Linked DNA regions of Homo sapiens. The protein of the gene in region 2 interacts with the protein of the main gene of each other region in a biochemical or structural test. Each region holds a gene or a part of one and is shown on either strand. Other genes may lie near its edges.

Region 1 (7,000 bases), on a different chromosome or scaffold from region 2:
GAAGTAGGAGAAATCAAAGTCAAAGTAGAGTAAATCATGGAGGGATCCAGGAAAGCTTGGTGATTAACAAGACACCTGAGGGATGGGGGAAAGGGGTTCTCACCACAGTCATAATCTTAGGTTTAATGCAGAAGATTCATTCTGCCCTCATTCCCCCTAACGGAAAGAAAGTTTTTGCTGTTTGGTTCTTATTTATGAAGTTCACGGACTTTACAGCTGATAGGACCAGGGCAGCAGGAGTTGACACAAAGCAGGAAACTAAAGCAAATTACTTGTAAAAACATAAAAGTCCATCACAACCTTTAACTTTTCCACTGTATCTGTTACTGCCAGAGGACACTGATCAGAAATATACTGAATTGTTAGGGTGATAGGGTGTGATCTAAGGTTGTCATACCGGCCAGGTTGGCCTTCATAAACAAAGACAACAGAAGAACCTTTTCAGATTTGTAAACTCTCAGAAAACTAACCACCCGAGTATGTTTTAACCATTGTCCTGAGTGATTTACGTTTTCAATTCATTTTATCCTTACCGCATCACCGTAGAGAAGGTTCCATTATTGTCCACATTTTACAGAATAGGGAAGTGTCACAGAGTGCTTTATCCTGCCCAAAGTCACACAACTAAGTGCAGAGCCAGCATTCAAACCCAGGCATTCTGGAATCTGTATAGTGCTCAACAGCTCCATCTGTTCTTTAACACCTAGCTCAAATATTTGTAACTCTGCAAACCTTTCCCTGACTATAGTCCACCCCCTCCAGAGTTAAAGTGCTCTGCTCTTTTGTCCTGTTTCCTAACATTCTAGACTTGGAGTTTTATGAACAGATTGTTTTATTATCTTCCACTTAAACTATTATTTGGGTCAAAATTTGTAGAAGGAAGTACAGTTCACCCTTGAACAACAACAGGGGTTAGAGACACCGACTTCGCCCCACCCACCCCACCCCACACAGTCAAAAATCTGCATAGAACTTTTAACTGCATGGAAAATTTAACTAGTAGCCTACTGTTGACCAGAAGCCTTAGTGATAACGTAGTCAATTAACACATATTTGTGTTGTATGTGTTATATCCTGTATTCTTACAATAAATCATAAGAGAGGAAACATTCATGAAGTGAGAGTGGATCATCATAAAGGTCATCTTCATTATCTTCACATTGAGTAGGCTGAGGAAGAGGAGGGGTTGGTCTTATTGACTCAGGTGGAAGAAAACCCATGTGTAAATGGACCTGCACAGTTCAAACCTGTATTGTTCAAGGGCCAACTGTACTATTCTGTGCTGGGTTAGGAGACCTAGTTTATAGACACAAAAGTAGCTGAGAAGTTACTTTTTAAAAGAAAAACACTTATGCAACAAACATTTCAAAGCACCTACAAAGTGATCTTAGTATGTATTTGCTAGTAAGAAAGCTGACATATAATTATCTCATTCTTAGAGCCCATCAGTTGATACCTATTATCAACTAATGAGTTTCTTAAACATTCCAAGAGAATAATTGGCTGAGTGTGTGCTAGTTAAATAATATAAAGCATGGGAAATAAGTCTCAGGTTAGGTCACCATTTTGAGAAAATTTCTACACATAATGTTTACATTTAGGAGAGGAAAAATGTATTTCCATTTTTAATGTTAATGTCCATCATAGTTTGCCATTTCAATTCAGTAAGTATGTACCTCTGGTAAGGGATGGAAATAAGAAAAATGACTACACAGTGCTGCCCTCAGGGGGCTCGCCTGAATCTAATGGGTGTGAAGATAGATACTTGCACAATTTACAATAAAAGACCAATTTGTAAGTATTGCTGGAGAAAGATGACTAATTCAGCCCCAAGGACAGAAGGCTGTATCAGCTGTTAAGAATGAAATTACAAAAGTTGAAAGATTTTATTTTCTGTAACCATAGCTTGACATACAGTAACCAAATGCCATATTTCTTTAAGATTGTTTGTTTGGGAAATTTTGCACTCTACAATTCGTAAGATGAACAAACATGTCCTGAAGATCCAGAAAGAGCTGGAAGAAGCTAAAGAGAAACTTGCTAGGCAACACAAACGGGTAAGTTTTGTGTAAACTTGTAAGTAGTTAAAGAAAATATACCAGAAACTCTGGAGAGGATTCAGAGTTCATTATCTTGATGATATTTCATTTTTTCTGAGCCCAAATTAATGCAGAGCAGAAATTTTTCTGAGCCCAATTTAATGCAGAAGCAGAAGAGGAGGAAGGAGCAGGTAGTGTGTTGTGTGCTGTTACACTGCATGATGAACCAGTTCAGGAAGCCACAAACTTCACTTCCCATAGTTCACTATCTCTGGGTCGGCCTCACGTTTGCACAAGGGAAGTAGCAGAAGGGAAGAGGACACTTGTATTTCTGTAGGAGTCTCTGGGGGAAGAGGGAGAGGACTATAGATACTTAACACTTTCCCCGTACTGTGAGGAGGAATGGGGCAGTCATTCCCAAGTTAACGGAATACTTCTCATAGTATTAATTTAGTATTTTAGCCATTTTGGAGGGAAGCAGTGAGTGACTTAACATGATACTACTATTCATTATGAAAGTATTTTCCAGTGTTATGCATATTTACCATAGTAGAAGGTGAAAAAAAGTTGAGTTTAGTGCCCTATAGGAACCTTTCGCAAGTTTGAGTACCAGTCTCCATGTAGACATACCTGTATACATATATGGATATAAACACTCAGACCTGAAATACTGTAAGGTAAATGGTGTCATCTCATTTTGTAGATGTTATAAAGTGAGACATAGAGAAGTTAAGTAACATAGCTAGTAGGTTGCATAGCTGGTAAATGACCAGAGCTAGGTTCTGACACAGGTCTGTCAGACTCCAGAGACTTTTCTCTCATGCCACACTGTTTCTAGAAGTGTGCTGTCCAACACAGTAGCCACTAGCTGCACGTGACTATTTTAGTTAAATACAATTTAACATTCAGTTCTTTGGTCACACAACCATATTTCAGGTGCTCAGTAGTAACGTGTGGTTGCGGTCGTAACAGGCTGCACATATTTATATAACATTGGCCCCATTGAAGAAAGGTCTATCTATTAGGTAGTAGTGCTCTAGAACCTTACCTTTGAGTGGTGTTAGGAAAGGACAGTCGTGTACCCACGTGTCTAGAACATAGAGCAGACCTCATAAATGGGCTGTGTTTATAGAGAGAAAAGCAAGATTCTGTGATATCCGAGAGCAGGGTTCTGATAATTTTGCTTAAAGTGGAGAGATCAGTAGATGGGGCCTTAGCAGTTAAGTATTAACCTCGAAGAATTACCAGGCTTTCTAGATTCAGTGATGCCACCTTCTTGCTGAAAGTACCTTGGTATGTAACACCTTAGAGCCACGTTCTGGCTCTGCCACTTTCTGACTGGGTGATGCTGGGAAAGTCATCTAACCTCTCAGCCTTTTTTCTCTGTAAAATGGAAATAAACCATGCCTTGTTTTTCTTTTCCTTTAAAAAGAAAAAATTAAATTCTATAAACTCTTCAGAGTGAGCTGGGGGCAGGGATTATTAAAGCTTTACAGGAGTATATTGAGCCCATCATTGCCAGCAGAAAGTCTTAAACAGCCCACTTTGAATTATTATATGTCGGCTGGAGCCATTTCTAAATTATAACAAGAATGAGCAGCCTTGGCCCATAGGACTTGCCCAGTTTTTCTGTATGGCCCATTAGCAGATGAATGATTAGCAAGCTGTCTCCCTGTTGTTACTGCTCAAATGGTCAAATAGTGATAAATTGTAGCCAAGTCCCCCCATGTTGTTACCAAGACAAGTGCCACTAAATTTCCCTGGCCTAGATAAGAACCCATGGAATTTCTGAATGAGAAGACAGTGTCTCTGAACCACAACAGGACTTTGAGGTATATATGTGTGGGTGGCGGGGTGGGGGGGTACTTTCACTATAGAATATAAGTCTTAACATTTGGCCAGACACAGTAAAATGCTTCCCCTGGAGGAGATTTAACACACTGGAATCTAAATGGTATTTTCCTTTTGTTCATTTGCCTTCTATAGCGAAGTGATGATGACGACAGAAGCAGTGACAGGAAAGACGGGGTTCTTGAGGAACAAATAGAACGACTTCAGGAAAAAGTGGAATCTGCTCAGAGTGAACAAAAGAATCTTTTCCTCGTTATATTTCAGGTATCTTGGCTTGGGACATTTATACATAAAAGGAAACAATACATTTCTTTAGTTTTAGTTTTTAAAAATGTTATTTTTCATTGTAAAAGGAATACACATTCATTTATAGAAGAGATTAAAAATACAAAAATTTAGGAAGGAAATAAAAGTTCACTACTCAGAGGCAACCATGTATGTCTGAGTTTCTCTGCTGTTTACTTAGTATTCTCGCATGAGCATTTCTCCATGCTTGAAAAAAAATTGTGGGTTGCTTTTTTTATATATGTCTCGTTTAATTATTCCTCATTGCTGATCATTTTCCTTCCATGAACATTTTAATGCATAGATTCCTGTTAAAATTTCTGATTACTTCGTTAGAATAGATTCCAGGAAGTAATATTACTAGGATAAGTAATTTAAGACATTAAAGGTCTTTATGTATTGCCAGGAAGAATGTACCAACTCATGTTATTACCAGTCTGCCCTTCTAGGTTGACTTCATGAATAATGGAAGCTAGGCACACACACCACAAAGACAGGGTGGAACAGGCAATACTTTGGGGTTTCTTTGTCATGAATTTTTTTCCAAAGTATAAGATTCTGTCTGTAGTACTACCTTAACTTCTTCTCCCTTTCCAGCGGTTTATCATGATCTTGACCGAGCACCTAGTACGATGCGAAACTGATGGGACCAGTGTATTAACACCATGGTATAAGAACTGTATAGAGAGGCTGCAGCAGATCTTCCTACAGGTATGTGGGGAACTTCGATTAGGTAATAACACTATTCTCAGCCACAAAGATTTTTCATTAAAAAAAATCCTTGTCAAATTTGTTAGGAGGTTATATAGTACCTGTTAGACCCTTTAGTTCATGTCCATTTGCTGCTACCATTGCTCATCAGAATATTTAGGCTTAAACTGATTCTGTACCACTTAGATTCCTAATTGCCACCCCCCCAACAACCCCCCGCCCCACCTTTTTTTTGAGATGGCATCTCACTCTGTTGCCCAGGCTGGAGTTCAGTGACACGATCTCAGCTCACTGCAACCTCCACCTCCTAGGTTTAAGCAATTCTTCTGCCTCAGCCTCCCATATTGCTGGGATTACAGGCACCCGTCACTACTCCTGCCTGATTTTTGTATTTTTAGTAGGGACAGAGTTTCACCATGTTGGCCAGGCTAGTCTCAAACTCCTGACCTCAGGAGGCCTCCGCCTCCCAAAGTGCTGCTGGGATTATAGGCGTGAGCCACGGTGCCCAGTCTCCTAATTGTCATTTTCTATGCTGGGGATCCTAGCTGTAATATAAAATGTAGAGGACAAAAATATCAAGAGGACAGTAATTGGATTTATAAGTCCCTAAAAAGCCAGTGTTATCCAATGTGCAGGTGGTAAACTGTCCACAGAATCAAGGTAAGCTCCCTGGGGTCTCTCTGCAAAAGCAAAATGCCGGCACCTATTCTCACCTAGATTTAAGTTAAAGGTATATAGGAGAGTGGAGCTAATTCATTGTATCTTCGGACACTACTCCCCTAAATCTTCATTTGTTCATTCTAGAAGAATGATTAATGTAGAAGTCACTCTAAGTTCAATTCTTTGAGCCTCCAAATAGGAATTCCCTCTGATTTTATAGTTACTGCCAGTTTTAAAAGCTTTAACAGTCTCTAGTCCTATAAGAATCTCTGAGAGTATTCATGGCTTATAGAGGAACACATAGACAAGAGTATTTCGTTTTCTGACTGTTTATCTTCCTGTCAGTCCGTCTGGCTGCTTTTTAAAAAGTTACAATGTATTATGCCCTGACTGGGGAGAGAGCTAGCTGAGCCTAGTCCGTAATAGTACTAGGAGCAAGCAGGCACTGCTGCCACTGCCTTGAATCATGAATTCTGTTTACATAGAAGTTGGTAAGAACTGGATTTTTTAAAAAGCTATTGAGCATCCATTTTTTTCATTTCCCTTTTTATTTTTTTAATGTTGGGGATTTTCAGGGGTCCATTGTTCCTATCAGCACTTTTTTTTCCCCTTCCTCTTTTCATCATTCTGCAGCATGGGTGGGCTGCTGAAGGAAATGTTCCACAAGATTGCTTATATGCTTTTTCCTGACCTAACTACCCCCTTTTGTGTGTCCACAGCATCACCAAATAATCCAGCAGTACATGGTGACCCTGGAGAACCTTCTCTTCACTGCTGAATTAGACCCTCATATCTTGGCCGTGTTCCAGCAGTTCTGTGCCCTGCAGGCCTAAGGGTCATTTTTTCCTCATGTCAAGGTTTTTTTTGATATCTTAAAATAATTTGTCTTATTTTTTGATGGTTTGAATGCTTGCTTTCTTGTAGTATCCTTTCACTTCTTAAAGGAAACAAAGGGGAAGAGGACAGTGAATGAACATGGCATTACTTTTAATTGCCCTGAAAAGCAAATACTTCCTAACGGCAGTAATGTGACTATGACCATGATATATTATATATGTGACAGATACAAATTCTCTGTGATCAGTTTGTTATTTTTTTTCTCCTTAAGGCACAAAATAATTGGTTTGAGGTATGTGAAACACTAGAGGTCAACCTTACATAGTATATAGAACTGATGGGTTTACCCAGCTACCCAGTAGCATAACTTTTCACAGCTCGGGGATGAATTAACATGGCTGAAATAAAACTAAAAGTATGGTTTTTAAACTTTGGCATTTCATGATTTATCATCTCACTCTACTCTAAAACTGGTGGTTTCTTACTGAAGGTGTTCTCCATTTGAAATTTTATCTTCAAAGTATTTTTAAGTAGTATCTTTAAGACATGACTTGTTAGTAATAAAAGTGTTACTAGTTGGAAGAGTAGCTCTCAAATTTGTCTTAATGTAAATCACC
Region 2 (7,411 bases):
GAAATCCTGTCTCTACTAAAAATACAATTAGCCGGACATGGTGGTACATGCCTGTAGTCCCAGCTTCTCGGGAGGCTGAGGCAGGAGAATTGCTTGTACCCGGGAGGGGGAGTTGTGGTGAGCTGAGATCGTGCCACTGTACTCCAGCCTGGGTAACAGAGCAAGGCTCCATCTCAAAAAAAAAAAAAAAAAAAAAAAAAAGTGAAGTATACAGTTAGTGCTATGTTTGAGATGGGGTCTCGGTATGTTGCCTAGGATGGTCTTGAACTCCTGAGTTCAAGGGATCCTCCCACCTCAGCCTCCAAAGCAGCTGGGATTACAGGCACATACCACAGCACACAGCCAATTAATGTCTTCTTTTTTTTTTTTTGAGACAGAGTCTTGCTCTGTCACCCGGGCTGGAGTGCAATGGCACTGTCTCAGCTCACCACAACCTCTGCCTCCTGGGTTCAAGCGATTCTCCTGCCTCAACCTCTCAAGTAGCTGAAACTACAGGCACATGCCACCGCACCTGGCTAATTTTTGTATTTTTAGTACAGATGGGGTTTCACTATGTTGGCCAGGCTGGCCTCGAACTCCTGACTTCATGATCCGCCCACCTTGGCCTCCCAAAGTGCTGGGATTACATGTGTGAGCCACCGCACCCAGCCTAGTGTCTTAATACTTACGTATTTGCTTATGATTCCATGGAGTGCCTGGTAGGATGGCTTGTCTATGTTCCATGTGGTGAGGACTGGGCTCACTCATGCAGCTTTCATCTGGACTGGAGAAGCCAAGATGGCCTCAACTTCTGGCTACTCAGATGGCTGGCTGGAATGCTGAACCCTCTCTCCTTACCATCCTTCATCCCCCAGGGTCTCTCTTTTTAAGTGGTCTATCAGGGTGACTGGACTTCCATGAAGGCCCAGGGTTCCAAGAGGGCAGAAACAGAAGCCGCGGCAGCACATCTGGAGGTCCCTCAGATCTGTCTCTTGCTTCAACAGTGTTTAGATGGAACAGACCCAGGGACTCTCTCTCAAAAATTAGAAACAAAACAAAACCAAATCCCGAAAGCTGTAATTCCTTTTAAGGTCTAGACCTCTTAAGGTCTAGAACTCAGGGAATATCTCTTCTGCCACATTCTTTTGGTGAAAGCTAGTCAGAAGCCTAGCTCAGATTCAAGAGGAGGGGGAATAAGCTTTACTTATTGATTGAAAGGGGGCAAAGTCACACTGCCTAAGGGCATGTAGGTGAGAGGCATTGTTGTGGCCAACACTGGAAGCAATCTACCATAGCAGATATGAGGAAAAGTTGAGAAGTGTAATGCATGCAGCACCCATCTGCTCAAAATTAGGCTTACACTCCATTTTGACTAGAAGAATTCTGCATTTTTCCCTCCTCCTCCTCCTCCTTCTCCTCTGTGTACTGCTGAGGGCTACGCGCGGACAAGAAAGCAATGTCTTTCTTTTGAGCAGCAAACTGGTCAAGAGGAGTCTAAAAAGAATCTCTCTACAAGAAGATCATGCTAAGAGGCCTTCCTGTACTTCTAAAATTTGCCCAATATGCCACTGTAATAATTTACCCAGAGTTAATGTGAAAGCAAAAACTTCTGGGAGCTGCCCTTGATTTGATTGACTTTCAGGAGTACTTGTGCTACTTCTTTGCACCACTGCCCTCCAGCAGTGAGAGTGAGGCTTGTCTCAATAAAACAAAAACAAAAAAACAAAGTTACACATCCCAATAGATAGTGTAAATTCCCTAAAAGTAAATTAAGTTCAGAAAATGAGATGGAAATGAGTATTTTCATCACTACTAAATCTCCATAGTATCTAACACATAGTAAACACTCAATACTTACTGAATGGATAAAAGTCATATTACAATACACATACATCTTTCAATAGCTCCCTTCATATTCACCCCTTCCTTTTCATTACTGTTCATAACCAGCTTTTAGTTACAGTTCTTCTCATCAGACACTTAGTTACAATGGACTAATAACCATCTTTGTCCTCTCCAAAATCTCCTTCCTCCTCACCTCAATTTATCTAGAACAGCAAATCAATTTTGAAACATTCCTATTTACAAACCCTAAGTGTTTCCTATTGTATTCTGAATAAATTGCCAAGTCTTTACTCAGGTACCATGTACCTTCTACAATCTGGCCTCAAATTTGGAAACCTAAAATTTCTCCCAATATTCCCAAATATAAATCTTTATGTTCTGGCGAACTAATCCAGATTGGCATAACACACATCACGCTTTCCTACCTCTAGTCTAGACCTTTGCCTTTATCATATTCCAGACCTGGATTTCCCTCCTATACCTTCACCTACTGAAACCTTAGTGGTCATTTTAAGCCTGAACCTTGATTCCAGCTTCTTTCCAATGCCTTCCTGGGTCATTAAACTTGGAGTCCTCCTCTTCTTTGAAATCACGTTTTTTTTTTTCCTGTTTTTTTGTTTTGTTTTGTTTTTGTTTTTTAAAAAGTCTATGCCCATGCTACCTCATGCTGTGAAGATGGTTCAGTATTAATAAACTGGCTCACAGCTCCTTGACCAGATTATAAACTCTTTGAAAACAGGAGCCATGCCAGTCAAACTATTTTTTGTATTTTTTGGACAACAGCGTATGGCATCATGTAGACATTGGATAAGTCAGTGATTCCCGAAATGTTTCCATTCAGGGAGCTCCATTAAAAAAACAAAACAAACAAACAAACAAAAGGCCAAGCCGGTGGCTCATGCCTGTAACCCCAGCACGTTGGAAAGCCAAGGCAGGCTGATGAGCTAAGGTCAGGAGTTCAAGACCAGCCTGGCCAACATGGTGAAACCCCATCTCTATTAAAAATACAAAATTAACTGGGCATGGTGGCAGGTCCCTGTAATACCTGCTACTAGGTAGGCTGAGGCAGCTAGAATCCAGGAGGTGGAGGTTGCAGTGAGCTGAGATCACACCACTGCACACCAGCCTGGGCAGTAAGAATGAAACTCTGTGTCAGGCCAGGCTCGGTGGCTCACGCCTGTAATCCCAGCACTTTGGGAGGCTGAGGCAGGGGGGCAGATCGTAGGGGCAGATCACGAGGTCAGGAGTTCGAGACCAGCCTGGCCAACATAGTGAAACCCTGTCTCTACTAAAAATAAAAAAAATTAGCCAGGTGTGGTGGCACGCGCCTGTAATCCCAGCTATTCGGGAGGCTGAGGCAGGAGAATCGCTTGAACCCAGGAGGCGGAGGTTGCAGTGAGCTGAGACCACGCCATTGCACTCCAGCCTGGGTGACAGAGTGAGTGAGACTCCATCTCAAAAAAAAAAAAAAAAGAAAATGTGTCAAAAAAAGAAAGAAAGAAAGGATTGTAGGAAAAACCACCACCACCAACCTTGTATTTAAGTTTACTACACATACAGAAAAGTGCACACCAAAATGTTCAGCTCAATTACATTTCACAAACTGAACACACTCATGCAGGTAGCTCTCATAACAAAAAACACAACGCAACCAGGACCTCAAAGCCCTCTTAGTGTCGGAACCCGATTTTAATAGATTACACGTACTTTGTAAATTTAGCCTAAGAGAGAGATCACGTATTTGAAGACCTCTCGGATTTTTCCTTCATCAGCCCTCCCCACTTCCCCACGCCTCGTCAACACAAAGAAGCATGCCCGCACCCACCACCGCCCCCTCCTCACCTCAGATTGGGGACCACCGTTGTGTTTTTTATTTTTTTGTAAATGAACGCATGGAAACAAACCAACACCACCTTCAGTGGAAAAGGTATGTTAGTACCAAACTGTCAAAAGGAACTAGTGATCCTTCATCTTAAAAATCTGTACTATGGCCGGGTGTGGTGGCTCACGCCTGTAATCCTAGCACTTTGGGAGGCCAAGGAGGGCGGATCACGAGGTGAGGAGTTCGAGACTGGCCTGGCCAACACAGTGAAACCCCGTCTCTACTAAAAATACAAAAAATCTGCCGGGCGTGGTGGCGGGCGCCTGTAATACCAGCTACTCGGGAGGCTGCGGCAGGATAATCACTTGAACCCGGGAGGTGGAGGTTGCTGTGAGCCGAGATCGCGCCATTGCACTCCAGCCAGGGCGACAGAGTGAAACTCCGTCTCAAAAAAAAAAAAAAGAAAAAAACCCCCAAAACTGTACTATATGGTGTTGCTCTCTACGAGTGCTACTTTAACACAAGTCAACTCTCAGGACTCCTCTCCGAATATTCAACATGGCCGCATGCGCGTCTATAAGCAACATGGCCGCTCTGCCAGTCACCAACATGGCAACCACAGCCTCACTGTGTCCGGAAGCATGAGAGAGCGGGTATGAGGACTATACCGGCCGCTCTGCCAACACCTAACGTGGCTCTTTATAGCTTCCAAGAAAGCGCGACACCGGAAATGACTTTTCTGTCTTGCTCAGCTCCAGGGGTCATTTTCCGGTTAGCCTTCGGGGTGTCCGCGTGAGAATTGGCTATATCCTGGAGCGAGTGCTGGGAGGTGCTAGTCCGCCGCGCCTTATTCGAGAGGTGTCAGGGCTGGGAGACTAGGATGTCGGACACGTGGAGCTCTATCCAGGCCCACAAGAAGCAGCTGGACTCTCTGCGGGAGAGGCTGCAGCGGAGGCGGAAGCAGGACTCGGGGCACTTGGGTGAGGCACTGGGCTGTTGGGGCCGAGGCTCAACCGGGGAGGACGGGCGGGATCCCTAGAGAAAAAGCTCCAGAGTCACTGCCCTTTACCAAACGGCCATTTCTATAAAGCCTCGTACATTGGTACTCCCTCTCCACCTTCAGCAGCAGACGTTCGCCCTTCTGCAAGTAGTTCGCGGTTCCTCCTCACGCTGGGCCTCGGTTCTTCCAGCTCACTTTTACCGGACGGACGCTTGAGCCCCACCCTCGTCCGCCTTGCCCACTCCTCTTCAGACTGCGAGGACGTCGCCTTTGTGAGGCTGCTCAGCCCCCTATCCCGCGAAGCAGCAAGAACCCCTTTTTGTTGCTGCTTTGGCGCTTTGTTCCCTCAGTTATAACGACTGTTTTGTAGTGGTCATTTCTTGGCAGCTGTGGGTACAGTAAGCGAGGAATGAACCTTTATATCCGCAGTGCCCAATTTAGTGGCCCGTACAGAGTGGCACTGGGTGTTTCTGAATGAGTACCCCTACCGGCATTGACTTAGCCATTTACATACCTAGCAGGAATCTGAAAACATTTGTGTTTGGTTTCCAAACTTTTTCTCTTCTCCTGTTGCCCCCGTGTCACGATCATAAAACTTGAAGGAAATTTAAAAGATTAAATTCACTGTTATCCACTCCCTACCCTCAGGACAAACTCTGAATTATTTAAGGCAAACTAGTAACAAAGCTCTGCAAAAATAGTGACTCAGTATCACCTTTGTGGTAGATTGTTCCAATATTTGTCAGTATCTTCAACTGCATCTCTAAATCTTGTCTAGATCATGTTAGGTTCATGTGCTCGTATTCTGGCCCCTAGAAATAGAAGATGCACTGGCAGGATCCTCCCACCTAATTAATTACCTTTCTTGAGTATCTACAGTGTTCATGGGTCTAATTAGACAAAAATAAGGAAGAAATTGCCCCTGTCCTCAAGAAGTTTAAAAAGCATAGGATTCAAGGGGAGACGCTTACAAAAAGTGAGGAATATGATAAGATATATGTACGAAACCAAATGAATGAATCTACAGTCTGTACAATGAAGAGAAGTAACAAGAGCTGGTGTAGGTAGTGAAGCCATCAAAACCATCATAGTGGAATTGGCACTTGAATTTGGCCTTTATGGCTATATAGGACCTAGATAATTAAAGAGGTAAGAGGGGAGGATAGTGGAGTAAGAAGTGCAAGTCATATGGTCAGGCAATAATTAGTAGTCAAGTCTCAGAGTAGTTCCTGAATTACCTAAGAGGGAGAATTTTTTTTCCCTTGCTCTAGAAACTTCATTGATTTATTTATAGATACAATTTTTTGTTTTGTTATGTTTTTTCCCCTATTCTTTGGTTTCCTGTTTTGAAACTTTTTAAAAATGTGCATAAATGATGCCAACGACTTTTTTTGCTTTTGTTTTTGAGATAGCGTCTCTCACCGTTGCCCAGGCTGGAGTGTAGCAGTCCTCCCGGCTCATCCTCCTGAGTAGCTAGGACTACAGGTGCATGCCACCATGCCTGGCTAATTTTTAACTTTTTAATAGAGATATGGTCTCATTATGTTGCCCAAATTTGTCTTGAACACCTGGCATCAAGCTGTCCTCTTGCCTAAGCCTCCCAAAGTGTTTGAATTACAGGTGAGAGCCACCATATCCAGCCTATTTAATTTTCCTGTGGAGTCTTTTCCCATTCAGCAATGGCAGTTGCAAAAGGGGACCTGAGGATCAGGTAGTTGTTTGTTTCAACAAAGTGATCTGCAAAATTATTTAGTTAGTTAGTTAGAGACAGGGTCTCCCTCTGTCACCCAGGCTGGAGTGCTGTGGCATGATCATGGCTCACTGCTGCCTTGACTTCCCGGGCTCCAGCGATCCTCCCACTTCAGCCTCTCAAGTAGCTGGGGCCACAGGCGTGTGCTACCATGCCCAGCTATTTTTTGTATTTTTGGTGGAGAAGGGGTTTCACCATGTTGCCCAGGCTGATCTCTAACTCCTGAGCTCAAGCAATCCACTCACGTTGGCCTCCCAAAGTGCTGGGATTACAGGCGTGAGCCACCATGCCTGGCCTACAAAATTAACTTTTAAAAAGCCGCTATATTGGTGTACTACATCATTGACTACTTTGTGTTCACCTTTCTGTCGTTTTTGTGACAGGCCATCCTCTATCTGTGGTGTTGTTTGTTGTTTCTTGGTTTTAATTGTTCCTCATCATACTTATTTATTTATTTTTGAGATGGAGTTTCGCTCTTGTTGCCCAGGCCAGAGTGCAATGGCGCGATCTTGGCTCACCGCAACCTCCGCCTCCCAGGTTCAAGTGATTCTCCTGCCTCAGCTTCCTGAGTAGCTGGGATTACAGGCATGTGCCACCACTCCTGGCTAATTTTGTATTTTTAGTAGAGACGGGGTTTCTCCATGTTGGTCAGGCTGGTCTCAAACTCCCAACCTCTGCTGATCTGCCCGCCTCAGTTTCCCAAAGTGCTGGGATTACAGGTGTGAGCCACTGTGCCCGGCATCATACTTCTTTATACTTTTCCATTTCTAAATTCATACTCTTTCAATGAATGATTCTAATTGCTCTTGGTCATTTTAAGTTTCATTTCATTTTTCTATGACATTAACTACATTTTGGTATTAACCAAACTTTCTGCTGTATGCAGACCTAACTACTAGAGCCTTGATACTTTGATCCAGGTCCTTGCTAAACATGTTTAATATTTTTGACAATAAGACTGTATTCTCCCTGCATGTACATATCCTTTTTTATTTTTATTTATTTTTTCTTTTTT
Region 3 (7,035 bases), on a different chromosome or scaffold from region 2:
AATCCCAACACTTTGGGAGGCTGAGATGGGCGGATCACTTGAGGCCAGGAGTTCAAGACCGGCCTGGCCAACATGGTGAAACCCCATCACTGCTAAAACTACAAAAATTAGCTGGATGTGGTGGTGCACGCCTGTAATCCCAGCTACTCGGGAGGCTGAGGTATGAGAATCACTTGAACCCAGGAGGCAGAGGTTACAATGAGCGAAGATCATGCCACTGTGCTCCAGCCTTGGTGGCAGAGTGAGGCTCTGTCTAAAAAAAAAAAAAAAAAAAAAAAAACTAAAGTGTTTAGAAGAATGCCTGAAACAGTAATTACCAGTGTTCACTTTTATTTGTTATTATATACGCTTATTTAAGAATTCGTACAATACAGAAAGGTACTGAGTGCATCATAATCCCTGTGCTTTTTAAAAACTTTTGTCTCATTTTAGTTAGAAGAACCCGAAGAACCTAAAGTGCTAACACCAGAAGAACAATTAGCAGATAAACTGCGGCTAAAGAAATTACAGGAAGAGTCAGACCTCGAATTAGCAAAGGAAACTTTTGGTAAGACGGGATTATGATTGCAATACAGTATTAAACTGTTACAGGTGAAGACCCAGAAAGTTCAGAAAACATCTCCTTTTCTTAAAAGAAACATACTGGCTAATGTAGATATTAGAAAGCAGTTTTTAATCTCTGTGTATATTTGAGATTTCATTACATGTTCAGATTTTTGAATAATTGTTTTGAGTAAAAGATTATTAAGATAAGTCATTTATAGCAATGCAAGAAGGGCAAAAAGGAGTAGACTCAGATGAAGTACACTACTGCATAGAATATTTTTATCAGCTGGATGAAATTTGCATGAAATGTGAGGTCTGTAGCTTTGAAATGGACTGTAGGGCTGTCCTGTTGTCTTAAGACTTAGACAGTAGGATGTTGCTCCAGGTGAGAGGCATGCAGCTTTTGCTGTGCCTTCTTGTGCTCAGTGTCATTTCCTTCTGCAACCCTTCTTTGCCCTTACCATGCCCTATCTTTAGAGGGCCTCCATTTCTTTGTGCGGTGTCTGCAGCTGTGGTTAGTGCGTGAGATAAAAGTGCAGGATCCTATAAATAGATAAATTCAGAGTGTTCCAGAGTAAGAGACATGGCTAGAGAAATAGTCAAAGCCCTCGCTTCATTTAACCAAGTTATCGTTACCTGTTGAGTACTTTTCAGAGTAGAAGATCATGTTGAAACAGTTAAATCACTGAAATTTATAACCAAGAAGGAAAGCTCTAGTTATTCTGATACCCCTCCCCCACTTTCATACTTTCTCTACTCTGAAACAGATCAACAGGCTGACTGTAGTGATTGTTTTCCTTTTCATGAGGAAGTATGACCTTATCTGTCAGTGGATCTGTACAAATACCAGGAGTTGATGTGAATGCTCCTGTGCACCATTGTATGCTTGGCAGGTCTTAACTGCACTCATCTAATTATAGAGAGCTCTTGGCTGTTAATATGTGTCTTCCTAGGATGGTAAAAGCTGCCCATGTGTTTATTAAAGAGGCAGGTTTATGAAGTGTGCATAAAGCCTAGCATGGGACACCTGTTATAGACTAAAAGGTAAAAACATGCATTCATATAGTCATTGTTAATAGGATTTTACTGTTGTGTTTCTCATACTAAAATACCACATGTAATATTGTTAATAACTAATCTACTTGACATGGAGGATACAGAAGCATACTTATCTTAGTGTAAAACTCATCTAGGCCAGATTTTTTTTTTTCTAACAGGGTCTGGCTCTGTCATCCAGGCTAGAGGACAGTGGCTGAGATCGGCTCACTGCAACCTCTGCCTCTGGGCTCAAGCCATCCTCCCACCTTAGCCTCCCAAGTAGCTGGGACTACAGGCGCATGCCACCACGCCTGGGTAATTTTTGTTTTTTGGGGCTTTTTTTGTAGATACAAGGTTTCACCATGCTGCCCAGGCTGTTGTTGAAGTCCTGAGCTCAAGTGATCTGCCGCCTTGGCCTCCTAAAGTGCTGGGATTACAGGCATGAGCCACCATGCACAGCCTAGGCCAGATTTCTTCTATTGGGATTTAACATGTTTACCCCCGCTTAGCTTCTGGAGTTAGACAAATACTTTCACAGGATCCATCTTTGTTTCTTATTCTTTTTGTTCCCTCTCTCCCCACTTTACTGTGGGGGTGTTCTTGGACAAGAACAGAGTATCCCTTTTGTAATGTAATATGTTGTGTTTTGTTTTTAGAGAAAGGTTCTTGCTCAGTCATCCAGTCTGGAATGCAGTGGCATGACCATAGCTCACTGCAGCCTCAAACTCCTGGGCTCAAGCAATCCTCCCACCTCAGCCTCCCGGGTAGCGAGGGCTACAGGTGAATATCACCACACCTGGCTAATTTTATTTATTTTTTTGAGACAGAGTCTCACTCTGTCACCCAGGCTGGAGTGCAGTGGTGCAGTCTCGGCTCATTGTAACCTCCGCCTCCTGGGTTGAAGTGATTCTCGTGCCTCAGCCTCCCAAGTAGCTGGGATTACAGATACATGCCACCACCATGCCTGGCTAATTTTTGTATTTTTGGTAGAGACAGGGTTTCACCATGTTGGCCAGGCTTGTCTCTCGGACTCCTGACCTCAGGTGATCGGCCTGCCTAGGCCTCCCAAAGTGTTGGGATTACGGGTGTTAGCCACTGCGTCTGGCCACACCTGGCTAATTAAAAAAATTTTTTTTGTAGAGATGAGGTCTTGCTGTGTTGCCCAGGCTGGTCTCAAACTCCTGGCCTCAAGCGATCCTTCCTCTTAGGCCTCCCAAACAAAACACTGGGATTACAGGTGTGAGCCACTGTGTCTGGCCTTGATATATTGTTTTTAAATGAATAAAATACTTATTTATAAAGAAAACCTGTTATATATAAATAGATGTCAAAATACTAAAATGACAAATTTGTGATACAGAATTATATGCTTCCTTATCGATGCATTAAATCAGGTGTAGTGGCACGTCAAATAATGTCATTTGAGAGTAATTATGACTGAACAATATTAATATTGTAAGATATCTGTAATGGCAGGAGAGTGTGATCTCTCCTGGTAAGTCAAGTTTTGCTAATACCACTGTGATTTGTTGCCAGTCAATTGAAACTGAAGGAAATGCTGAATTAGAGGTTAATAAAGATGTAACTTTTTTTCTGATTTAAGTTTGTAACCCCCCTCCCCCCTCACCCAGCCATTCTATCCAGTGACTCCAGTGGCTCCAGGTTCAGAGCCCCTGCTTTAGAATGAAACGACAGGGTTATTCAGATAGCTATTGGCTTTGTAAGGTTTCATTTTTAAAAATCCTAACCTCCTGATACTTTTCAGTGCTTCTTTTCTCCTACAGGTGTTAATAATGCAGTTTATGGAATAGATGCTATGAACCCATCTTCAAGAGATGACTTTACAGAGTTTGGAAAGTTACTAAAAGATAAAATTACACAATATGAAAAGTCACTATATTATGCCAGTTTTTTGGAAGTCTTAGTTCGAGATGTGTGTATTTCATGTAAGTAATTCTAATTTCTAGCCCCTCTGGGTAGATTTTTAGTAGGATGTTCTCTTCAGGAGGTTGAAGGTTATTTTTTATTTTCAAGGATACTATAATACAGACTCATGATTTGCTGTTTTTAGCAATTACCTTGTGAATGTTGTTCTGCAGATACAGTGAATTTGAGTGCTGGATCTTTTTGTTTGTTTGTAGGGGTAAGAGGACTTCTTGTTTTACAATGGCTTCCCTAAGAGATACCTGGGCTTGTCAGCAAAGCAGCTAATAAAACACTGGCCTATTCTTTTTATCTGATTATCACTTGAGAGGGGCTGGGAAGTATCTTTTGAGGGAAAAGGTCTCTGGCACTGTAGGATTTGGGTTGGGTGAGACTTCAGCCACTGTCTTTTACAAATCAGAATTAGACAGGGTGCAAGTTGAGTGACAGGGCTGGCACCTATTCTCTGGGTCCGTGGTTGTGGTGCCACACCTTGATAGGAGTCATACATTTCAGGGCAGGGTGAATGGGAGTGACAGCCATGGGTGGTGAAGCAGGAATGTATGGAAGGGACTGGTTTTGCTAGTATTTGCAGTTTTTTTGTTGTTGTTGTTTTTGTGATGGAGTCTTGCATTGCAGAGGCACGATCTCAGCTCACTGCAACTTCTGCCTCCTGGGTTAAAGCAATTCTCCTGGTCTGGCGCAGTGGCTCATGCCTGTAATCCCAGCACTTTGGGAGGCCAAAACAGGCGGATCACGAGGTCAGGAGATTGTAGACCATCCTGGCTAACAAGGTGAAGCTGAGGCAGGAGAATGGCATGAACCTGGGAGGCAAAGCTTGCAGTGAGCTGAGATCGTGCCACCGCACTCCAGCCTGGGTGACCAAGTGAGACTCCGTCTCAAAAAAAAAAAAGCAATTCTCCTGCTCAGACTCCTGAGTAGCTGGGATTACAGGCGCCTGCCACCACGCCCGGCTAATTTTTTGTATTTTTAGTAGAGACGGGGTTTCACCATGTTGGCCAGGCTGCTCTGGAACTCCTGATCTCAGGTGATCTCCCTGCCTTGGCCTCCCAAAGTACTGGGATTATAGGTGTGAGCCACCACGCCCAGCCTATTTGCAGTTTTTAAGATGGAGAAAAAGGAATCCTACACAATGAATTGGGTTTTCTTTGATAAATTATCACTAAGCTGAGGGTTCTACATTTGATTGGTAATGTGCCCAGAGTTGATATTTTATTCTGCATGTACTAATTTTTTTCTGGTTTTTGGAGGTGTTCTCTAACCAAAACTGAACACTTTCTGGTAGCTAAAAACTGGTGTCTCTTTCCAGCTTCATATTTTTATAAGGCTGATAATGCTGTCCACTGAACAGGACTATTTCTTGGTAGGACATAGAGATGGTCACTGTTCTCATTGTAGTTCCCGTGCAAGAAAATGGAGACATCATGGGATAGGGTGTTGTCATTGTAGGTTTAAGAATTGTCATTCTGGCCGGGCGTGGTGGCTCATGCCTGTAATCCCAGCACTTTGGGAGGCTGAGGCTGGTAGATCACCTGAGGTCAGGAGTTTGAGACTAACCTTGCCAACATGGTAAAACCTCATCTCTATTAAAAAAAAAAAAAAAAAACACAAAAATCAGCTGGGCATGGTGGCACGCACCTGTAATCCCAGCTACTCGGGAGGCTGAGGCAGGACAATCACTTGAATCTGGGAGGTGGAGGCTGTGGTGAGCCGAGATCACGCCACTGTACCCCAGCCTGGTGACAAAGCGAGACTCTGTCTCAAAAAAAAAAATAAAATAGGCCGGGTGCGGTGGCTCACACCTGTAACCCCAGCACTTTGGGAGGCCGAGGCAGGCGGATCACGTCAGGAGATCAAGAGCATCCTGGCTAACACAGTGAAACCCCGTCTCTACTAAAAATACAAAAAATTAGCTGGGCATGGTGGCGGGCGCCTGTAGTCCCAGCTACTCGGGAGGCTGAGGCAGGAAAATGGTGTGAACCCGGGAGGCGCAGGTTGCAGTGAGCCGAGATCGCGTCACTGCACTCCAACCTGGGTGACAGAGTGAGACTCCATCTCAAAAAAAAAAAAAAATAATAGTAATTGTCATTTCATGTTTATTTGTCTGTTCTCCCTGATTACTGGGGGTGTGTTAATGGAAGGGCATGTTATCCTCCCCCATTTGTTTAGACTGAGGAAGGATAGTAGGGAGCATTGTGAGCTATAAAGACAGTTTCTCTTTGGTTGAGCAATGGTGTGTTGGTGATTACAGGTCGTCATTATAAATAAAATGAATTTTGTTTTCAAGAGACAGGGTCTAGCTGTGTTGCCCAAGCTGGTCTCGAATTCCTGGGCTTAAGTGATCCACCCACCTAGGCCTCCCAAAATGCTGGGATTACAGGCATGTGCCACTGTGCCCGGCCACCTTACGTTTAAAGAGGAGAAATTCATGGTCCTTTCAAAGTTACTGAAGTTTAACAATGAACAAATTGGATTTCTCATAACACTTTTGGAATGTACATTTTGGGATATATAGATATATATGGAATGTACATATTTAGCTTTAACTTTTCAAAATGCTTAAAAATTCAAGTTTAATGGTATGCCCTTTTTTTTTTAAGTGGAAATTGATGACTTGAAAAAAATTACCAATTCACTGACTGTGCTTTGCAGTGAAAAACAGAAGCAAGAAAAGGTAAGAGCAAGCTGTGTAGGGAAATGGGTATTAAATTAGAGTGGGGTTATAGGTCTAACAGTCAACAAATATAATAGGAGCCTGTCCTAATTAAAAGTCAAGCAACTCACTAATACCATTTAAGTTAGACTAGAAGAGGAGTATGGGTGCTATTACTGTCCTTTTGTTTCCAGACATGTTCCCCTTTTCTGAGTTAATAGAAATTGCTGAAATCACAGACTGGGTTCAAATACTAGCACTGCTACTTAATAGGTATAGGTAAATCAGCTTTTCTAAGCTTCAGTCTTCTCCCTTCTAAAATAGGAACAATAATACTCACTTTGCAGAGTATTTATAAGAGTAAAGTAAGAGAAGTATGTCAAGTAAAGGTTAGAGCTTTGTGATTTTAAATTGGGGGGTACTTATCCACACTTTTCTAAATTTGCTTCAGTGAAGTTAAGGCTGTCTACCAATAACTTATAACCCCTGCTGGTGGGCTAGGTATCCAGAGCAGGACCAAGGACCCAGATCAAGTTTTGGAGAGACTGACTCTGGGAGACCTGTTCAGGTCCAAAACATGTAGGCTCGGATGTCCCTTACAGAACTAGTGTTTCTGGGACCAAAGGTTTTTGTGTGTTTGTTTATGAGGGTTGCTGTACCAGATAAGATGCCCATAGCACACTAAGGTTCATGAATTAACTCTCTTTCATCTTTAGCAAAGCAAAGCCAAAAAGAAGAAGAAAGGTGTGGTTCCTGGAGGGGGATTAAAAGCCACCATGAAAGATGATCTGGCAGATTATGGTGGTTATGATGGAGGATATGTACAAGACTATGAAGACTTCATGTGACATTTT
Region 4 (7,035 bases), on a different chromosome or scaffold from region 2:
AGGCATAATTCATGGAAGAATCCTCATTTACCCACTAATTTATAGGGTAAACAAATCTAGTCAGCATCGGTTCTTAACAGTCTTAGATAACGGGGTCAGATGCTAAGGTGTAAGTCTTACTGTGCTGCAGAAAACATGAATGTTTCAAGATGGGTTGCTGGTATTACCTTCCCTCTTGTTTATATGCTGTAGAGATTGTTCCAACTAGGGCTTGAATTCCTCTTATTAGGGTGATATTTATGCTTTTATAAACAACATGTTCACTTTTGGGTCTGTATTTCTCAGTGCCTTCACTTTTCAGCAACCCACGAAGTCTTAAAACAGAGGAAAGGAAATTGGGGTTTGACCAGCAGTGTATTGTAGTCACCTGAGGAGTTACAACAAAACAAAAACAAAGGAAAGCTAGGCCATACAACTTCATTAGAAATTAGAACTAAATAGGATGTTAGAGTAAGTTGGAGAACTAAAAACAGACACCACCTACCAAACCCAGTATAGGAACCCAGCCGGTATCAGTTAGCTGAATTTCAGGAGTGTGCTCACGCATTAGTATACTTTAAAGCTCCCCAGATGGCTCTAATGTGTATCCAGAATGAGGACCCCTCTTCATTTATCTAAAAAAAGCTCTTTAGGTGATTTTGCTCAGCTGGGAATGAGTAAATAGGGCTCCTGAGTGTATATGTATCACAAATGTGGGGTCATTTGTGATACATATAAGCAAAATATAACAGGAGAGTGTTTTTGTTTTGAAGAATGGTTAAGCTTTCCATGTGTCTTTTTCAGCCTTGCTGTTATCAACATATTTGGTGCACTCAGTTTGGTATCACTCATTTATTGTGAAGTAATTAGAAGTGCTTTGGACTCAGAAGTCAGATCTCACTTCCCTGGCTAAATTCCCTGTCAGCTTATCTTTGTTTCCTTATGTAAAATGGGAAAATAATATAACTGACTTCACAGGGTGGTTGTAAGGATTAAATGAGTCCTTGCACGTAAGACGGTGGAGTGCTTGACATATCATAAGTGATAAGTGTTTGCCATTCATTCCTTCAGCAAAATATATTTTGAGTATCTTTTATGTGCCAGTATCTGTGTTAGGTGTTGAAGATGTGGTGAGTAAATCATCCTTTCATTTTTATGGGAACATTCACGAGGGGAAACAATGAGCACAACATGGATTCTGTCTCTATTAAAAGATACTTCGAATCTATGAAACTTTGAAATATATATACATGGCAAATTCTTGGTTATCTATGTAGAATAGCAGAAGTATGTATGTCATTTAGTTATATTTAATCAGGAATTTCCTTTCCTTTTAACATTTAAATCAGTGTCTGCAACCTTTCTGGCACCAGGGACTGGTTTCGTGAAAGACAGTTTTTCCACGTGGGGGGTTGCGGGGATGTGAGAGGATGGTTTCTGGATGACACTGTTCCACTTCAGATTGTCAGGCATTAGATTCTTCAAAGGAGCATGCAACCTAGCTCCCTTGTATGTGCAGTTCACAGTAAAGGTTTGTGCTCCTATGAGAATCAGTGCCACTGGTCACCTGACAGGAGACAGAGCTTAGGCAGTTTACCTCCTGCTGTGCAGCCAGGTTGCTATCAGGCCACAGAGCAGTTCCCGAGCAGTACCTGTCCGTGGCCTTGGGGTTGGGAACCCCTGCTCCAAATGAATCCTACTGTAAGGCATTTCCATGACATTACTTCTTGAACTAAAGAACTGAGGTTTTAGTGTGTATGTAGGAAATAGGACGATCATAAAATGTCACAATGAAGAATGAGCTAGCTTAGTTTTGATAATAGTGATTTTTTCCTGAGTACTTTATCAGATTATATTAAAATGACAAGATCATAAATATTAAAGTTGGAAATTATTTTAGTGATTGAGTCTTTCCTGAATGCTTTCTTTTTTGGACAGCCTTCAGTACTAGAGAGAATTTATCCTTAGAGTTGAAATCTTCTTTCCAGAAACTGTCACCTGTGGTTCTTAGGTTTTGCCTTCAAAGTAAGACTAATCCTCTAAGCAGCCAAAGAACTCTTCAGTATTTGGAAAGTGCTTTTTTTGAGTGTCCCTTGCCTAGAGAGAGATTTGCATTAATTTTACTGGTTCTCATCACAGGATTTTAAGCTTTCTCTCTTGTAATTACCCTTTTCTGTGGATTCTTACTCATACTGATTGTTTTTTGTGCTTTTCTCATTTCTTAGTTTGGTACTGTTACTGGTAAATTTTCTCTTGGGTCATTGTAAAGAACTGAGGATAACAGTTCAGTGATGTCGAAAGAGCGAGATAATTATTTCTTTTACTTGGAGCGCTGTATTCTATTGATACTACATAAAATTGCATTGGCTGTTTGGCAAGCATGTCAAGCCTGGTGTGCTGTTTGGTTACATTATCCTTACTGATCCCTTTAGAATTCACTTTTGTTAGAGTTAAGACAGTTTTCAATATAGTTTGAACTGTAATAACTTGTTTTAAAATATATTAATTTTTTTATTGCTATTTTCTTCATAACTGGAAATGAGGTTATTTTCATCTGGCTTCTTTATGAAACTGTGCTGGTCCTAGTCACCAGTATTCCCTTTTGCATATGTAGGAATCAGCTGTTTAGGAATCACTTCTAGAATTTGTCTGAAGAACTATGTTAAGCTCATATATCTTCTAATATCTCTTGTTTACTTTGATTTCAGTAGTGGTTTAGCAATCTCATTAGTAGGGGTAAGTATAAAGGAATCTAGGTAACCTAGGTGAATTGGTAGTTGTGTTTGTAATAACTCTTTATCAGTTTAGTTTATCCCGTCTTGATCACCTGTATTTGTTCTATTTTTTAAGTGTAGAAATAATTTTTCTTGGCAGAGAGGTATGTTGAATAAGCATTAAATAGTTATTGACAAATATCAACAATATTGGTCATTTATTGAGCACTTACTATGTGGCAGACTCTGTGCAGAGAACTCTATACTGTGTCATTTTTAGTAGTGTCAGTAATGCTATGAAATAGTGCTATTTTGCAAATTAGAATCTAAGGCTTGAGAAGATTAAATAGCTTTCTCAAGGTCACAGCTAGTAAATGCTGGAGCTGGAACTCATACCCATACTTGTATGACTCATCAAGTCCATTTTTGTGCCTTTCAAGAAGTGGAGAGGTCTTTCATACAGGAATGTGTAGGTTGTGCACTTTCATTTCGTAGTATTGAAGGTCTGCCAATCTTATTAGTTGGTGTTACTCCATTTTGAGCTCTTTTCCCTGCTGACTGCTTGCTCTCCTTTGGAGTTCTGTATCTTACTGGTGTAGTCTTTTTGGGTCTATTCATAACACAGTTTTTACTGCATATCTGTTGTCTATTACTACCTGGTTATTTTAACTATCAATTTAGTTACTAATATGAAAATCATCTCCCAGGTTTAAAAACTAGGTTTAAAAACCTACTTTTAAACCTAAAACTAGGTTTAAACTAGGTTTAAATCTTGGCTCTACTACTTCCTAGATGTGTGACCTTTAGCCATTTACTTAATTTCTCTCTGCCTCAGTTTTCTTATCTATAAAATGAGTATTAACAGTACCTTTCTCCTAAGGTGGTTGTGAGAATTACATGATAGGGTAATACATGTGAAATAATTAGATTATTGCCTGTCATACAATGTTTAGTAAATGTAATGTGCTGTTATTAACTGGTCATTAGTTTCTTTTTTTCTTTCATAATTGGTTTATTGGTCGTGTTGATGATCAGTACACAGACATTTCAATTTGTACACAATTCTTAACATATATACTGAAAATCTAAAAAGCCATGTGTTGTAATTTTTAAAAAGTTATTTCAGTGACTTTCCAGCTTAAAATTGGGAAGCAAATTTTCCATAAGAGGCTATCAAGTACCAGTATCTTCACATGTTAGTAAGCTGTTACATAGATCTCACCAATTCACAGTATAATACCATATAGACTACATACTCAAATTTTCAATCTTCCACAGCACATTAACAAAGTTCATTAGAAAAGCAGGACTACCACGACCAAAGATGTTACAGTGCACAGAATTATGACAGGGAGAGCCATGATCAAAGAGTGTTTTTCTTTAGGAAACAATTCTACTAAAAAATAATGTGGGAATGAAAGTAATTTAAAATGTTCAAGACATTAAATGCAGGACTGCAACTCCATATTGCCATTTAGTATGCTTTGTATTACAGGATATAAAAACTAACCCCCCAACTATGGAATGTTAAGCTGACACTCAGGACAGTCAAACCCTCCCATAATTCAGTATCTCACACAAACCTGTGTTTACAAAATAGTTGGTAACAGTATTCCTCTGGGTTGTACAAGATGGGAAATAGGGACCACTGATAAGATACAGTGTGTTATGATATCAGTCAAACTTGGCTTCTTTATCTCTGGCGTCATCAGAGGCTGGACTCTTCTCAGTTTTAGTTTCTTCGTTTTGTGCAGGTAAATTTCTTTAGTTTCCTGGTTAGCCACTTTGGCCTGTTTTCCCTTTGCTCCCTTTTTCCCTTTGTTTGCACTTTTTTGTCTGAAGATTTATCCTTTCCTGCTGCCTTTTTTTAGCTTCGTTTCCACTTTGGCGGGAGCAGGTTTAGCTGACAACCGCATTGATTCTCTCTTAGGCTGTTTCTTCACCATCCGTGTGGCTGAGCTGACCTGTGGGCTCAGGCTGCACACAGAAGTAGCTGCTCACCCTGTGTGTGCCTGGCCCACCCATTACTTCGTTTCTAACAATAATATATTTGTTTTAAATGAAACACTAATAACGTACAAATAAATTGTCATTTTCTTGTTAGAATTATTTTTCCTCTGAGAACTTTACATTACAATTTTGAATGTGTTGCCTTTTGGGTCTTCAGGCCATGGGCTCATATTAAATATTAATGCTATTATTATTAATATGTGCCAGGCACTATAAAACACTTTACATATATTAACGCCATGTTGTAGGAATTATTAATGATTATGATTATTGCAGACTTTAATTTCTTGTCCACCTGTGCACGGTGTTACCTCTTATCTTTATGGGAATATTAAAGGAGAGAGTAGTAGAAGACCTGGTTATTCCATTAGAGGTTGCTTAGTGAATCCTTCTGGTTGAGGAAAACTAGATCATGCTGGAGACTATACCAACCAGATTGTTGTTGGATATGTGTGGGTACGTGTTCCCGTTGTTGCATCCTCTGACTATGGAGATGATCTGTTGAGAAAGGCAAAATGAGAATTTATCAGAAGGCTCTGCTTTCAGGTGTCCCGATAATTGAGACCTTTATCTCTGTGTCTTATTGATAGTTTTGTCATTTATGTGTCTATTAACAGGATCACTTTCTCAATAATAGCCTCAGGTTGAGGGGGTATTCTTTGATTTGGCTGAAGGAACTCCTGGATGCCAGACCATGGGGAAGCTTTGATTTAAGAGCATAACTGCTGTAGATGGACGTTTTTGACATGTAATCAAACTCCTGGAGTTTCAGATCTGCGTTTAGATTATGTGAGCTTTATTATTTATGTAAGGGTAAAGGAAAGGATTTGTAAGACATTTATTTATTCCTCTTATTTAATTTGTGGTTTTGCAAACCTAGTACAGTTTCTTTTGTTTTTTCTTAGAAATAAAGGAAATAATAAACTAGGATGGTTGTTAAGCTCCCTTCTGTGTGTGTATGTTTTAGGTGGTATTAAAGATAATCAAACATTATCAAGAAGAAGGACAAGGAACTGAAGTTGTTCAAGGAGTGCTTTTGGGTCTGGTTGTAGAAGATCGGCTTGAAATTACCAACTGCTTTCCTTTCCCTCAGCACACAGAGGATGATGCTGACTTTGATGAAGGTAAGGGTGTTCATCACAAGTGTGTCTTTGCAGTGCATACAAATGGATATTGACACAGGTCTCACCATAACTTTTGATAATGTGTGAATTGGGAATCTGTCAGGCTAGCCTACTTCACTTGATGTCTGATACTTTGGGAAAATTATATAAATTCTGGGAAATGAGGGTTTATACTATAGACATCATTAGTTTGGCCTTTACTTATTTGGAATTTGTGATTCTGATTTGTCATAGATTGGATAGGAACTGTGCTGATGTTGACTTTGTCAACATGAAATCAGCTTGCTAAATAAAGTTTTGAGGGACAAAGATCATCCTTATGTGTCTGTTATCCATTCCCTTCTATCCTCTTTTGAATAAGTCAGTGTTTAGAAAGAGATGGAGTTCAATTTTCTGCTTCAGAAAGAAGATACTCCTCAAGCATTTCAGAAATTTTATTTTTGTACTATAGGTGTAGTTCCTTTGTTAGCAAAGGCTGAGAGTAGTTAAAAGCTCACATCAAAGGCTAAAATCAGCATCTAGAAGATTTTTTAAAAATCAAGTTGAAAATAACTTCTCACTTGTTTGAAATCCCTGGTTTCATTTTCTGTGTAACTTTTTATTGTAAAAAGCACATAAAAATTTTAAGTATACATTACAGTAGTGTTAAGTGTATGCATATTGTGCAGTAGGTTTCTAGAACTATTTCATCTTGCAAAGCTCAAACTCTGTATCCATCGAACAATCCCTTTTTCCACCTCTTTCATCCCCGCAACCACCATTCTACTTTGTGTTTCCAAGAGTCTGACTACAGATACCTCATGTTAGTGGAATCATGTGGCATTTATTATTTTGTGAGTGACTTATGTTATTTAGCATAATGTCCTAAAAGTTCATCCATGTTGTAGCAATGACAGGATTTTCTTCTTTTTTCTTAAGGCTGAATAATAATTCATCATCTGTATATACCACATTTTCCTTATCCAGCCATCTGGCGATGGAAGTTTAGGTTGCTCCCACCTGTTGGCTATTGTGAATAATGCTGCAGTGAACATGGGTGTGCAAATATCTCTTCAAAATCCTGTTTCCATTTTCTTTTGGATATGTACCCAGAAGTGGTATTACATGGTAATTCTATTTTTAATTTTTTGAGGAACTTCTGTATGTTTTTTTTAATAGCAGCTGCACCATTTTACATTTCCAACCTTGCACAAGGGTTCCAATTTCTT

Evidence for each region.
Region 1: the proteins of METTL3 (region 2) and NCBP1 are reported together in a solved structure, tested with the Homo sapiens proteins (one study listed by BioGRID).
Region 3: the proteins of METTL3 (region 2) and EIF3J form a complex in vitro, tested with the Homo sapiens proteins (one study listed by BioGRID).
Region 4: the proteins of METTL3 (region 2) and EIF3H form a complex in vitro, tested with the Homo sapiens proteins (one study listed by BioGRID and IntAct).

The regions. Positions count from the first base shown.
Region 1 is NC_000009.12:97,664,821-97,671,820, forward strand, and holds part of NCBP1 (nuclear cap-binding protein subunit 1), read left to right. Parts: intron 1-1,942; coding exon 1,943-2,057; intron 2,058-4,025; coding exon 4,026-4,154; intron 4,155-4,772; coding exon 4,773-4,886; intron 4,887-6,265; coding exon 6,266-6,379; 3' UTR 6,380-7,000. UniProt on the Homo sapiens protein: Component of the cap-binding complex (CBC), which binds cotranscriptionally to the 5'-cap of pre-mRNAs and is involved in various processes such as pre-mRNA splicing, translation regulation, nonsense-mediated mRNA decay, RNA-mediated gene silencing (RNAi) by microRNAs (miRNAs) and mRNA export.
Region 2 is NC_000014.9:21,508,339-21,515,749, reverse strand, and holds the start of METTL3 (N(6)-adenosine-methyltransferase catalytic subunit METTL3), read left to right. Parts: upstream 1-4,409; 5' UTR 4,410-4,526; coding exon 4,527-4,626; intron 4,627-7,411. UniProt on the Homo sapiens protein: The METTL3-METTL14 heterodimer forms a N6-methyltransferase complex that methylates adenosine residues at the N(6) position of some RNAs and regulates various processes such as the circadian clock, differentiation of embryonic and hematopoietic stem cells, cortical neurogenesis, response to DNA damage, differentiation of T-cells and primary miRNA processing.
Region 3 is NC_000015.10:44,554,121-44,561,155, forward strand, and holds part of EIF3J (eukaryotic translation initiation factor 3 subunit J), read left to right. Parts: intron 1-432; coding exon 433-547; intron 548-3,368; coding exon 3,369-3,530; intron 3,531-6,128; coding exon 6,129-6,202; intron 6,203-6,897; coding exon 6,898-7,029; 3' UTR 7,030-7,035. UniProt on the Homo sapiens protein: Component of the eukaryotic translation initiation factor 3 (eIF-3) complex, which is required for several steps in the initiation of protein synthesis.
Region 4 is NC_000008.11:116,724,808-116,731,842, reverse strand, and holds part of EIF3H (eukaryotic translation initiation factor 3 subunit H), read left to right. Parts: intron 1-5,670; coding exon 5,671-5,827; intron 5,828-7,035.